Regions from separate parts of the Homo sapiens genome. Here region 1 is linked to region 2. Evidence: fine-mapped expression QTL. A gene starts in region 2. The other region holds a variant in brackets. All regions are shown on one strand. Distances are from middle to middle. Region 1 has its middle 37 kb from the start of EXTL3-AS1. Region 2 holds the start of EXTL3 (exostosin like glycosyltransferase 3).

Evidence for each region. PIP is the estimated chance that this variant, and not a neighbour inherited with it, causes the effect.
Region 1: its variant is fine-mapped to the expression of EXTL3 in whole blood (TOPMed, PIP 0.98).

What each region holds. Positions count from the first base shown.
Region 1 is chr8:28,662,442-28,666,826 of GRCh38, forward strand. It overlaps a transcript of EXTL3 not described here. Among named protein-coding and RNA genes, the nearest start is that of EXTL3-AS1, 37 kb to the right of the region's middle. The variant A/G (reference allele first, on the strand shown) is at 1,903.
Region 2 is chr8:28,699,526-28,703,910 of GRCh38, forward strand. EXTL3 (exostosin like glycosyltransferase 3) reads left to right here and starts at 1,976. Exons shown (of 7, transcript NM_001440.4): 1 at 1,976-2,134. EXTL3-AS1 (EXTL3 antisense RNA 1) reads right to left here and starts at 1,939. Exons shown (of 3, transcript NR_126027.1): 1 at 1,835-1,939; 2 at 1-518. RefSeq lists silencers at 1,715-1,894, 1,965-2,034, 2,135-2,544.

The DNA of each region.
Region 1 (4,385 bases), 37 kb before region 2:
ATATGTATTTCCAATGAATAAGTCCTATTAAATAGGGAGTTAGATTTAAGTTAGAAATATCTTCCTTAATGGGACAGTTGGCCTTTTTCTCCAGTTAGTTTATGTGTCTAGGTTTGGTTCCTACTCACTGCTAGAATCAATTCTGTTTCTCCATGACACTGCAGAGGAAACCTGTTTGTATAAAAAGTAGAGCCAGGCTTGGTGGTTCACGTCTGTAATCCCAGCACTTTGGGAGGCCAAGGCGGGTGGATAATTAGAGTCCAGGGGTTCGAGACCAGCCTGGGCAACATGGTGAAATCCTGTCTCTAAAAAATACAAAAATTAGCCAGGCGTGGTGGCACGTGCCTGTGGTCCCAGCTACTGGGGAGGCTGAGGTGGGAGCTCCTTGAACCCAGGAGGTCCAGGCTGCAGTGAGCTGAGCTGCGATTGCACCATTGCCCAGTTGTTTGAGGCTGCAGTGAACCACGATTGTGCCACTGCACTCTAGCCTGGAAGACAGAGTGAAACCCTGTCTCCAAAAAATTAAAAAGTAGATAGAAATGGAAATAATTGTATTACCGTACTATCAGTTAATTCTTTGAGCTCATTCTGAGCCAAAAACCCTATGCTGATTTATCGTCAAAAATAATTTTTAATGCTCTATCCACATGCAATTCAATGAGATCTCCTTAGGCTTGAGGGAAAGGAAAAATGTTGGAAAGCCCCTGACTTTGCAAAAGCAAATTTTACTCAGTCCTTGTGGTTATATGTTGGTTCAGCACTAATACCAGGATTGGGTTTGGTGCCCCAGGAAACATGCCATGGTAAGATTAGGATGGGTAAGGGGTGTCCTCTTCTTTTTATAAAGTAGAAAAGGGCTACTGGGGAAAGTAAGACCCTGCCCCTCCCTCGCAGGCAAGGGCTCAGGCAGATCAGTTGCAGAAAAGCGGGCCTGGAAATCAATTCCTTTCAAACTGTTGGTGCCCTTGTACTGAAGAGGAAGTGTTCTTATACCTCCATTTGAAGACCATTATTCTTTTATTTTTATTTGTGATGGTGTCTCGCTGTGTCGCCACGCTAGAGTACAGTGGCGTGATCTTGGCTCACCGCAACCTCCACCTCCTGGGTTCAAGCAATTCTCCTGTCTCAGCCTCCTGAGTAGCTAGAATTACAGGTGCACACCACCACACCCAGCTAAATTTTAAATTTTTAGTAGAGACGAGGTTTCACCATGTTGGCCAGGCTGGTCTCGAACTCCTGACCTCAAGTGATCCGCCCACCTCAGCCTCCCAAAGTGCTGGAATTACAGGTGTGAGCCACTGTGCCTGGCCTGAAGACCACTATTCTTTGAAACCCCTAATCTCTTCCACTTTACAAGACAGCGTTCTCAAACCTCCCCTCAGCAAGACAGTTTCAGGCAGAGGCTGGTGTCTCTCAGTTTTCCTCTCTGGGGCAGGGCTGAGGAGGCTGCCATTGCTGGCGGCAGGCTAAATTTGGCTGCTCAGTTAGACAGGCGTTACGAAGTGAATAGACTCCTGGGAAAAGAGGAAGAAAATAAGTGAGAAAACATTGCTGTCTCTTTATCTTTTGAAAATACACGTGGGCCCTGACCAGGTGACACCTTCTTCACCAGTGACGGAATGACTATTGGTGAAGACACAGTTGACAGGCAGTGGGTTACAGAATGAGCAGAGAGAAAGACCCGGATTTGGCGGGCTGTCATGGTCTGCTTGGGCTGCCCTAACAAAATACCACAGCAGGCTGGGTGGCTTCAACAGCCGGCATTTATTTTCTCACCATTCTGGAGGATGGAAGTCTGGGATCAGGGTGCCAGCATGGTCACATTCTGGTAGGGACCCTCTCCCTGGCTTGCAGGTGGCTGCCTGTCATTGTGTGCCCATGTGGCCTTCCCTTGGTGAGTGC[A/G]TGGGCAGAGACAGAATCTTTCTTTCCATCTTTGTTTGTTTGTTTGTTTGTTTGTTTGAGACAGGGTCTTGCTGTGTCACCCAGGCTGGAGTGAAGTGACGTGATCATGGCTCACAGACGTGAGCCACTGCATCCGGCCTCTGGGGTCTTTTTTCATTTTGAGTAAGCAAACACCTAAAGTACTTTTTTCACGTGGAATGAGTGGTGGTAAACAATGTGAGTTTTGACAGGTCTCAATATTTTTTTTCATATTGATTCTTGAACTGTGTCGGATGATTCTTTATAGAATCCAGAGTTCAAGATATTCCTTTCCCCAGGCATTTGAAGATATTGTTCCATTGTCTTCCAGCAACCAGTATTGTTGATGAAATTTGATGGCAGTTTAATTCCCTTTCCTTTCCTTTTTATATACATCTCCCCCCGGAAGCTTTCAAAATTGCCCAGCGTTCTGAAATTTCACAAGAATGCAACACCATTAGGTCTTTTTTAATTCACTCTGTACAGCAGTCAGTGGACATTGTAATCTGAAGATGAGTTCCTCTTCAGCTCAGGGTCTTTTTCTCTCATATCTTTGATGATTTCCTCCCCTTCCTTCTTTGTCTCCTTTGGAATTCCTATGAAAGGAATATTGGACTACCTGACTCTATCACCCTTGAGCCTTTTCTCTCACATTTACCTATTTTTGTCTGTTTCCTTTTTATTCTGAAAGTTTTCCTTTACTTTTTTTTTTTTTTTTTTTTTTTTTTGAGAGGGTATCTCACTCTATCGCCCAGACTGGGGTGCGATGGTGTGACATCAGTTCACTGCAGGCTCCACCTCCCAGGTTAGAGTGATTCTCATGCCTCAGCCTCCCGAGTAGCTGAGATTACAGTTGCCTGCCACCACCATGCCTGACTCATTTTTGTATTTTTAGTAGAGACGGGGTTTTGCCATGTTAGCCAGGCTGGTCTCAAACTCCTGACCTCAGGTGATCCACCCACCTAGGCGTCCCAAAGTCCTGGGGTTATAGGCGTGAGCCACCACGTCTGGCCACCTTTACTTTCATATCTCAAGCTCAGTCGTCACTTGTTTACTTTTTTTTTTTTTTTTTTTTTGAGACAGGGTCTTGCTCTGTCACCCTGGCTGGAGTGTGGTCATGGCTCACTACAGCCTCAATCTCCTGGGCTCAAGTGATCCTCCCACCTCAGCCTCCCAAGTAGTTGGGACTACAGGCACATGGCACCACACCAAGCTAATTTTTGTATTTCTTGTAGAGATGCGGTCTCACCATGTTGCCCATGGCTCAAACTCCTGGGCTCGGGCAATCCGTCCATCTCAACCTCCCAAAGTGCTGGGATTACAGGCATGAGCCACTGTGCCTGTCCTACTTGTGTACATTCTAAGGAAGGCAGTCCTGCCATCTGATTTTTTTTCTTATGCCCTGTAATCATACCTTAATTACCAAGTACGCTTTTTTATTCTTTTCTGGATAGGTTTTCTATGTTTAGCTGGAGGGCAAAAGCTGAATGTGTTTAAGACACTGGCAGTCCCAACTCTCCCAGCTTTAATGAATTATCCTAATGATTGCCATGGTGCACTTCTGTGCCTTCTGTCTGGCGTCATCCAGTTAGAAGCTTCCATGGACTTCTTTTCAAGATCTGGCCTTCCTGGTGGCGTTTGAATCTGTGGTTTTCTTGTCTGCTTCTTTGTCAATCTCATCCTAATGCTTTCTGCCCTCCAGGAGTTTTTAAGATTTCTTGCCTGCTGATGGCAGCCTTTCTTTTTGCGCCTCTTATTATTTCACTCTTTTTCAAAATGCCTTTTTCATCATTTCAATGGGTCCTTGAATGGGAGATGAGAGAGATCTTAGGTACTCAGTGCATCAGTTTAAACTCCGGAAGGTTCTTTCTTGCTTTCTTGCTGTCTCTTTTCTTTTCTTTTCTTTTCCTTCCTTCCTTCTTTCTTTTTGTTTTTAGACAATGTCTCACTCTGTCACCCAGGCTGGACTGCAGTGGCATGATCATGGCTTCCTACATTCTCAAACAACTGGGCTCAAGTGATCCTCCTGCCTCAGCCTCCTGAATAGCTGGGACCATGGGCGTGTACCACCAAGCCTGGCTAATTTTTTTTGATGGAGTCTCACTATGTTGCCCAGGCTGGTCTCAAACTCCTGGACTTAAGCAATCCTCCCACCTTGGCCTCCCAAAGTGCTGGGACTATAGGCGTGCTTACGCCCAGCCACTCTTTTCTTTTCTTTCTTTTTTTTTATTTGAGACAGAGTTTCACTCTGTCGCCCAGGCTGGAGTGCAGTGGCGTGATCTTGGCTCACTACAACCCCCGCCTCCTGGGTTCAAGTGATTCTTGTGCCTCAGCCTCCCCAGTAGCTGGGATTACAGGCACATGCCACCACACCCAGCTAATTTTGTATTATTAGTAGAGATGGGGTTTCACCATGTTGGCCAGGCTGGTCTCGAACTCCTGACCTCAGGTGATCTGCCTGCCTC
Region 2 (4,385 bases):
CTAGATGGAGACTTGCTCTATTGCCCAGGCTGGAGTGCAGTGGTGCGATCTCGGCTCCCTGCAACCTCTGCCTCCCGGGTTCAAGTGATTCTCCTGCCTCAGCCTCCTGAGTAGCTGGGATTATAGGCACGCGCCACCACGCCCAGCTAATTTTTGTATTTTTGGTAGAGACAGGGTTTCACCATGTTGGCCAGGCTGGTCTTGAACTGCTGACCTCGTGATCCACCTGCCTGGGCCTCCCAAAATGCTGGGATTATAGGTATGAGTCACGGCGCCTGGCCAGCTTCATCATCTTTAAAAGCAAGTAAGTCAAAGTTAAGGGCAGCAATGTGTTAAGTTACTCCAACGTAAAAGACTGAGTCGAACAGGTAGCAGGTAACTGCACGTCCTCTCTCGCCAGTGTGGAGATGAACCAAGGCCTGGTAGTTCTTCCCTGTCTTCTGTGGTGTCTCCTCCCACACTGCCAAGCCCCTGCCTGCTGTGGCCGCGTACCTTTGGAGGAGAGCCAAGTAGAGGAACTGTTAAAAAAAAAAAAAAAATTATGATACCCAGGCAACACTCACTCCATTTTCATTTCCTGCAATACTTCTGATTTTTAAACTTTGCCTCCTCCTGTCTTGACTTCAACAAATTGGTAACAGTAAGGGTTGCATATGTACACATATGATGGCGGTAAGACTTGGAAAGCATTTGTTTATAATAATCAAGAGGAAAGGAGAAGAAAAGTGAATAGGAGACGGGAGAGCAAGAGAAAGAGGATAGGAAAAGGAGGATCCGAGTCGGGACTAGTTTGGGGGTGGAGAGATGAAGAGTGTGCTCTAGGAAACAGGTTGCTATGGGTTTTTAAAGGTTTGTTTTGCAAACGTTATCCTTAGCCCAAGCTGTCCCCCGTGGGCATCAGTCTTCAGCATTTTCTCAGCCTCCTTGCTGGAGCACTGGGCCTGGGCTCCAGCAGAAAGGGCGAGTGGATAAGGTCGGCAGCTGCGAGCCTGTCTCTGGGGTGCAGTTCTTCTTAAGGCAGCCGACCACCCAAGCGCAGGGCCAGGAGCCAGCTCTACCCGGCTTCTCCAGGTCCTGTGTGTTTGGGGTTCCCTGGCGAGGAAACCCTGGAGTAGAAGCCCTGTGTTCTGGGTATTAAAAACATTAAAAAAAATACGTTAAGACAAATTTGATCGTAGCTCATACTGCAGTTACAGGTTTTAAAAGCTGGTTTCTAAGTTAAGCAGGTGACCAGGTAGGGTGCTTGCTCCCACCCCCATCCCCTGTTCCATTATCCAAGGGGTCTTATCCTGACTTCTCAAGTGTGGAAACACACAGTCACGTGTTCCTTGGGACTGTGGAAAACGTGCACTTTGGGGCTCACAGGGGCTGGCTTTTCAGCATTGACACGGTGTTCTTCTTTCCTGTCTTGTTTTGGTGATCATCCCACACGACTAGATTAACCTGTTGTTTTTGCAAAGCCCCAGGATTTTCCTAAGCGTCCAAGCCGCCCGGCCTTGTCTTTGTTATGAAATAGTCAAAGGGCTTCAAAACTGCAGGCAGTTGCCGCGCACGGCGCCCGTCCTTGGAGGCCTTTTCTCTGAGAATGGAGTTTTAGATTCAGGGATTTATGACTTGACTTTCCCGGGGCCGGCGCCCCTGCGGAAGCGGCGGTGGCTCGGGAGTCAGACCCGGTTCCCACGCCGCCGGGAGCATCCTCCCCGCCATCTGCGGTCGGGTCTTCTCGACAGGGCCCGGCGGCCTTTGCAGGACGCGAGTTGGGGGGCTCCGAAGGCGGCCGGCGCGCCCCCCCGCGCCTCCCACAATCCCCGGCGCCCGGCCCCGCGCCCCTGACCCGGGTGTCACCGCGGAGCTGCGGGAGGCCTCGGCGGTCTTCGGACGCGGTCGGGAAAGTGGCGAGCGCGCGCCCGCGTCCGCGCCCCCGCTCGCGAACGCCGGCTTCGGCCATTTCCGGCGCGGCGCCCTTCGGCAAGTTCCGCAGTCGCCTGTCGGAAATGGCTGCCGGCCGGCAGGGGGAGCGGCGGATCAGGCGCGGCCTGGAAGGCGGGCGGCCGGCAGCCAGAACGGCTTCTGGGACGCCGACTTTCGCGCAGGCGGCGGCGGCGGCGGCGGCGGGTCCCTGAGCTGGAAGCCGGTAGGACTGCTGGCCGCGCGTGAGCCCGAGGAGCGGGGGCCGCGCCCGGAAGGGCTCATGGGAGGGTGCCGGGGCTGGCCCCGAGCGCTGGGGACGCGGCGGGAGGGACCGGGTCCGCCGTGCCCCGGGGAGGCTGCTGCTGCCCGGCGGCGGGAGGCATGCAGCCTCCGAGCGGAGTAGGCCTGCCCGGTGGCTCGGGGGCCCGGGGAGAGGCCGCCAGGCCCTCGGCCGGCAGCCGGGAGGGCTAACGGGTCCCTGGGCTGGGGCACCCCCTCCCCGCCCCCACACGCCCTCTCTCGTCCCAGTTTGGGCTGCTCGGGACCCGCCTCCACCTTTTTTTGGACGCTCGGCTGCAGCTGTTGGGCTTCCTCTGCTCCCTGAAGCCCTCCACCCTCTGTGACCCGCGGCGTTTCTCTGGCTGCTGGCCCGGAGCATCTTCTGTCGGCGGAGGCGCAGCTCCGGACTACCCCCACCCCTTCCCGAGCACACCTTCCCACATCTGCCCCCCGCTTCTACACGCAGTCGCCTGCTGCCCTCCCCGCTGGCTCTTTTTGCCGGGCTCGCCTCCTTTCAGGAGCCACAGTCAGAGGAGCCGCTTCCTGTCCGAGGGTCCAGGTGCTGCAGGACCCTGGCTCCCAGGCCCAGCTCCCCTAGAGCCGGCCTCGCGCTGCACGGGCTGGACCGGACAGGGGTGCGCGGGGCGTGTGTGCGCGGCGGAGCTCCGAGCCCAGCGACGGGGACAGCACCTATTCCGAGCCCCTCGGAGGCGAGCCAGGGCTGCCCGGCTGCTGATGGGTGCTGCTTTCTCTTCCCCACATTGAGCGAGAGCTTCGGCTCCTTTTATTAATAAAATCTGTTTGGCTCTCAGAAGACTTAAATTTTGTGGATTTTGCCCCTCCCCCGCCACCCGCACCACCCCACCCCCGCCCTTCCCCGCAACCTGGATTTTTCTTCCCTTTTTAAAAACTCTAAAAGCTTCATCAAGTCCTCTTGGTTCGACTCCTTTGGTGGAGGAGGAAGCGCAGAACACCACAACATGTCCATTATTTCCCCCATATGTGATTTACTTAAGAGTCGTCTTTAGCATTTCTTGTCACTTTGTCCTATTCTTTGTCCAATTTAGGTAGCTTCATTTTTACTGGCAGAGCTCCCCGTGCTTTCTTTTGTTTTTAAAGGCTTTGTGTGTTGCAGCCATGCAGACTCTGCAGTTTTCTGTATTTTGTTCGGCAGTGAGTCCTGCATTCTGATACAGTGACTATCGCTGTGACCTGTGTGCTGGGATAGTAACTGCGGGGCACAGAGTCTGGAGCGAAGCGAAGCCTTCTCAGCGACTTGCTATTTAGCAGAGGGACTTTGAAATATTTTGTGATGAAAGAAAAACCGTTTTCTTAAACTGTTATTTGATGTGTTAAAAATACCTTATCCTGTGGGAATTTCCCATTCGTTTGCTTGTGGGGAGCCGGAGGAATCATAAGAACTCACGAGCAAGAGAGAATCGAGCCTAAGTGCTTTCTGGAAGAGTCAGAATTGTGGCTCTTCAGACTTCCGGAAACGTGCTTAATGTCCAGAGATGTGAGGGGCATACCTACCTAAAAAATGATTGACAGGCGTATGTCTGTATCCCTCCACTTCTCGCTTTTCTAGTGGGGGAAAACCCTGTTAATACTTGGTGTGTAGTTGGGATCTTTCAGTGATTAGGCCTCAAGAGTTTTGACCTCGGAGTAAAAAGATTTTAAGGGAACAGTTTGGAGAGAAGTAAGTCGGGCCAGGCCGAGCATGGGAAATGTATTTCTAGGAGAGAGGGCAAGTCCAGAGGGTGGTTTGAAGCCAGCAGAAGACTAGAGAGAGACCTGTTCTTTTCCGCAGGGCCCTAGGCCAGCTGTGGATTGGAGGGTTATGGGTGATGAGGGGCTGCAGGAGTGATGCGGAGTCCTTGTCTCAGTTGAGACTGGTGGTCTTCTGGAGGAGGGTGGGAGGGATTCCCTGATGTAGACTCAGGTGTTAGGAGAAAAATGAAGTCCCATCAGACCTACTCTTGGTAAAGGTTCGAGCGCCTTTGTATGTTACTCTAGAGTGAGGCGAGGAATATGAAACCAGGACGTTTCATAACGTCCTAAAACTGCCTACTCCATTCGCTGGTTATTAAGTTTAGCTCAGAAAACTTCTATTAACATATTTCTATTTTATTTTTGTTACCCCTTCATTTCGGCAACTATCATTTCGAAGACTTTCAATGATAGGGCAGCTGACT